Regions from separate parts of the Homo sapiens genome. Here region 1 is linked to region 2. The links come from fine-mapping of genetic effects on gene expression. Tissue or cell type: whole blood. Region 2 holds a variant in brackets; the other region holds the start of a gene. All regions are shown on one strand. Distances are from middle to middle.

Region 1 (2,682 bases), 49 kb after region 2:
TTACGGGTGTCGGGCTGGGGGACTGTAAGGTCTTTCCCTTCCCACTAGGCCATATCTCAGACAATCTCAGTGGGGGGAAACCTGGACAATACCCAGGCTTTCTTGGGCAGAGGTCCCTGCGGCCTTTCGCAGTGCACTGTGTACCTGGTTAATCGAGAATGGAGAATGGCGATGACTTTTACCAAGCATACTGCCTGCAAACAAATGGTTAACAAGCCACATCCTGCACAGCCCTAAATCCCTCAAACCTTGATTCAATACAGCACATGTTTCTGTGAGCACAGGGTTGGGGCTAAGGCTACAGATTAACAGCATCTCAAGGCAGAAAAATTTTTCTTAGTACAGATCAAAATGGAGTTTCTTCTGTCTTCCTTTTCTACACAGACACAGTAACAGTCTGATCTCTCTTCCTTTCCCCCACACTGCCGCACTCCCCTTGCCGAGATAGTGAAAATAGTAATCAATAAATACTGAGGGAACTCGGAGACCGATGCCGGTCACCTGGGCCCACTCTACACTTTGTCTCTGCGTCTTATTTCTTTTCTCAGTCTCTCCTCCCATCTGACGAGAAATACCCACAGGTGTGAAGGGGCAGGACCCCTTCAAAGGTCAAGGCCATGGAGGTTCCCCCAGTGAAAATTCGGGGCGGGGAGGTGAGGAGAGCTCTGGACGAACGGAAGAACGGGGAAGGCCCAGCGCAGGGCCTGAGTGGTTCGCTCACCGACACAGATGTCCCCCAGCTGTTCCGGCCTCAGATTCACGTCCTTGAGAACCGCGGTCATGACTGCCGAGAGAAGCTCGTCGGGGGTGGTGTCCTGCAGCAGAAAGAGCAGCCGCAGTGACCCCCACTCCCCCATGCCCACCCCAGGGAGACAAAGCGACCACAGCTGGGTGCGGAGCTGCCTCCGGCGTCCAGGATAACCAAACATACGAACCGGACCCCAGCCCGCGCCGGCGTCTTCCCACACTCGGCGCCCAGACCCTCGGGCCTCACCTTGAAGCCGCCGCGGCCCGCCCGGCAGATGGCCGTGCGCCGCCCGTGCACCACCACCACGTCCGCGGCCGAGGCCTGCGGGGCACCGCTCAGGCAAGGCGCGGCCTGCGGCATCCAGCCGGAATCGGCCGGACCCCTCAGGTGGCCCAGCACTACCTGCAGCCTCTGCATTGCGCAGGTCAACCCTGCAGACCAGCCACCAGTCCGGGAACTGACCGCGGAGTTAACAGACAGCCGTCCGCACACGCGCAGAACCACATCTCAGCCTCCAAGGCCTCAACTCCGCCCACAGCTCTGCGAACAGACGCGAGCGACCCTCCAAAAGTCCCGTCCACCTCCAGCCTCAGCCAACCACAAGGAGAGTCGGCCTGGGAACCCGCCCCTCCCCGCCACCGCCTACCAAGCCCTCTATAGGAGGGCCCACAGGCACCGCCCAGCCGAGCTTTCCACTCAATGCCCCGCCTACCTTGGCCTACCGCAGCCAACCAGAAGGTGTATCTTTACGAATCCCCGCCCAGAAATGCAGACCGGAAGTCTTTCCACCTTTTGTAGCCAAACCCGAGACCTGACCCCCAAATCCCTGTCTCCTGCCCGCAGCCAAACGGAAGGCTGGGCAGCCAGGACCGCTTACTGCTTGGGGGCTGGAGATGGAAGCCGAGGCTCTAATTCCTCTACCCACTTCCTAGGAGGCTCTGCTATCCCTCCGGTCCCAGTACCCGAGCTGGGGGACCTAAATACTTCCGAGACGCCCGAGTCCTGCTCCGACGTGGTTGGGCTTTCCCATTCTTTCGAGAAGACAGGGAATTTGGGCTTCCGGGCTGGCCGGGAGAACAGATTTTACAGACATGCGGGGTGTGACAAGCTCTCTAACTGGAGAATGAACATTTCACACTTTTACCAGTTTTACACCCAATTGGAATGATTTTATTAGTGCCCATTTCCCGTGCTAGGCTGGGGTCTCCACCAAGGCAGAGAGGTACCATGTATCCGGGGAGCCTGCGACACCCTTGACACTTAGTAGATGATCAATAAGTACTTGTCGAATGAGTAAATGAATGAACCAGGGCTCCCCAGGTCAGGACTGTGTCCCTAAACCTAAAGGGCAAGGCCACGTGCCCCCTTGACTCCCAATAGCAGGGCCATGTCTTCACCTGAGACCCTGGAGAGTAGTGCTGGGCTTTCCACAGACACCAAAGGACAGGGTGCCTTGTGCTCCCCAACCTAGTGTCATGACGTCCCCAACCATTTCGAGGGCAGGGCCACGGCATGCCTCAGGCTCCAGAAGGCAGCTGTCCGTTTCCCACTCCCACCTCGGGGAGCACAGCAGGGGTCTTCCCATACCCCTACTGGCAGGATTGCGTGTTCCCCAGAGACAGTGGAGGGCAGAGCTGGTGCCTTCCCACTTGTCCCCTCCTCGCCATCCTCGAGGGCAGGACCGTATGAACCCCTCAGATTCCTCCGTGGAAGAACTGTGGCTCCACCAGATCCCAAAAAGCAAGGCCCGTTTCCTACAACCCCCGAAGGAGGGTCGTCCTCACTCCGCCGCCAACCTACTAGCACCATCACCAGACCCTCGAGGGCGGTGCCGTGGACCTCTCCAGATCTCAAAAGGCAGATTCCTACTTCTTACGCCCCCCACATCACCCGCCTCGAGACCTCAAGGGTAGAGGTGGGCACCCCCGCCTCCG
Region 2 (2,682 bases):
TACCTATGATTGGAAACACACAGAACGCAGAGTGTTGTAAACTCTCTATGCAACTGCCACAACCCGAATGAGAATGGATGTATAAGGGTCCAGTGTTGTAGTTCTGGTTATGTCACTAATACCTGTACCATGCTGGGCAAGCGGTATCACCTCTCTTATCCTTCAAGCCCTGGCTCAAATGTGACTGCATTCACTCATTCAGTCCTTCTTTATTGTAGCAAATGACTGAATAGTTCAGAGGTTACAAATTGGCTGCCCTTTGGCCAAATTCTGCTGGTATTTGTTTGGCACAGCACTTAACATTTTCTGAGCCAACATTTAAAAATAAGGAGATTTGGCCAGGCGCAGTGGCTCACACATGTAATCCCAGCACTTTGGGAGGCTGAGGCAGGCAGATTACCTGAGGTCAGGGGTTTGAGACCAGCCTGGCCAATATGATGAAACACCGTCTCTACTAAAAATAAAAAATTAGCCGGGTGTGGTGGCATGTGCCTGTAGTCCCAGCTACTCAGGAGGCTGAGGAAGGAGAATCACTTGAACCCGGGAGGTGGAGGTTGCAGTGAGCCGAGATCGCACCACTACACTCCAGCCTGGGCGACAGAGTGAGACTCCATCTCAAAAAAAAAAAAAAAATGGAGATTTTATATAAAGTTCTACATTTCCAGTCCTTTGAAAAACTGGAAGATATGAAGGCCAGGGCCAGGATTCACTGTGAGCCTGTTGGCCAGGGCTGGGGGCAGGCCCTGTGTACCTTGTCCTGAGTGCCCAGCTCCACCAGTCCCAAGAGCATCCCAGCACTGACACCATCCATCAGCATGCTCACACCATCCATCAGCACTGACACCATCCATCAGCACTGACACCATCCATCAGCATGCTCACACCATCCATCAGCACTGACACCATCCATCAGCACTGACACCATCCATCAGCATGCTCACACCATCCATCAGCACTGACACCATCCATTAGCACTGACACCATCCATCAGCATGCTCACACCATCCATCAGCACTGACACCATCCATCAGCATGCTCACACCATCCATCAGCACTGACACCATCCAT[C/T]AGCACTGACACCATCCATCAGCATGCTCACACCATCCATCAGCACTGACACCATCCATCAGCATGCTCACACCATCCATCAGCACTGACACCATCCATTAGCATGCTCACACCATTATTTTTCTCATAGCAAAGATATTTATTTGTACCCAGAAAACAAGGGATACATCTAGAGGATGACATTTCAAGATGTTCCAAGAAAGACATTTCACTCATTTCTGTTACTGACCAGGGTCTTGTAGGCATGGGTTTGTGTCCCTGGCATGCTAAGTGACTTCTTGTGTAGGCACTGGGGCTGCAGCTCTCGTGCCTCAGGAGCTTGTAGCCAGGGGTGGGTCAGGGTTGGAGGCAGACACATATGCTAGCACCTGTGACACTGGGTGTTACTGTAGGAAAAGGACAATGTGCTTTGGGAGCCCAGGGGAGGGCCCACTCAGCTCACCTCCTGAGTGAGACCTTCTCACACGCTTGTCACTTTGTGTCCCAATCACTTGGTGATGGTGTTCCTTGTACCTCCTGTCAGTAGTCAGCTCTTCACAGATGTTCTAAGACTTACTCTCCTTAACCTTCAGAACCTCACCTGGTACCTGGTGATGGCTGAGTAAATGCCTGCTGAATGAATAAGCCTCAGTTTTTTCATTACCATGTGACTGGATGATCCTTAAGTTCCTTCACATTGCAAAATGGATGTTTGAAGGAGAGAAGTTTGCAATCTGAATACTGGCTTTTACAATGTCTTCCACACTGTTGGGTAATCTGCTTTTCTTTAAGGCCATTGCAACCGTCGGCTTTGTTGAACAACCTCCTTTTGGAATCCTGCCTTCGGTGTTTGAGCTGGCCCCGGGACATGCTATATTAGTGGAGGTAGGTAATCAGACATTGGCATGTATTTCCTCAACTGCTTGCATGCTTGCATTTGTCTCTGTTTTCATGACTCAAGTGTCCAGTCCCATCCCATATCACAGCCTTAGTGACTTCTGGGTAGACGCATATTCTTGCATTCTGTAGGGTGATGTCAGATGTCATTTGACTGTCTTATGAGCATTTTCACAAAGCAAATGCAGATAGCCCTAGCATCACATCACAAACCTGAGCCTTGCTAGTCCACACCTTTAGTCTGGGAGCTACCTCCACCAATGTCCAAGCTGCCTCCAAGATCTTCGCTTGGTTCTTCAGTCTCTCTTGGGTCTTCCCTCCCCCAGGCCCCTCTATCATCTGGTACCTGATTATTGCGGTTATTGTGGCTTTGTTCTCACTTTCCTGCTTCATCCTCAGTTTGTATAGTCAGCAAGGCCCAACTCCGTTACGCCTCATCCTGAACCTCTGCAGAAGCTCTCAGTGGTCTGCCCCTGGCTGTGGGCGTCTCCTTTCCTAACTGGCCCCTTTTGCTGCCCCCTTCAGCTGATCACACCTGCTTGCTGGTCCCCAGAGGTGCCCATGAGAAATGGTGATACTTCCTGTCCCTGTTGCAGCACACTGCCACTCTCCCCGACTCCTGGTCTAGGAGTCTGACTCCACTTCATGTGACTGGGTGTGGGCTGCTACAGACATGCTTGGCCTTTCACACTAGCCTGCCGAGGGAGGCCCCTGACATTCAGGAGCAAAAACCGTCTG

What was found. PIP is the estimated chance that this variant, and not a neighbour inherited with it, causes the effect.
Region 1: ACAA1 starts here. The variant in region 2 is fine-mapped to the expression of ACAA1 in whole blood (INTERVAL, PIP 0.98).

What each region holds. Positions count from the first base shown.
Region 1 is chr3:38,135,871-38,138,552 of GRCh38, forward strand. It overlaps ACAA1 (acetyl-CoA acyltransferase 1), which reads right to left and starts at 1,257. Exons shown (of 12, transcript NM_001607.4): 1 at 995-1,257; 2 at 722-815. The coding sequence starts at 1,165. RefSeq lists enhancers at 2,372-2,682, 2,475-2,682.
Region 2 is chr3:38,086,457-38,089,138 of GRCh38, forward strand. DLEC1 (DLEC1 cilia and flagella associated protein) reads left to right here. Exons shown (of 37, transcript NM_007335.4): 10 at 1,840-1,932. Among named protein-coding and RNA genes, the nearest start is that of DLEC1, 49 kb to the left of the region's middle. The variant C/T (reference allele first, on the strand shown) is at 1,069.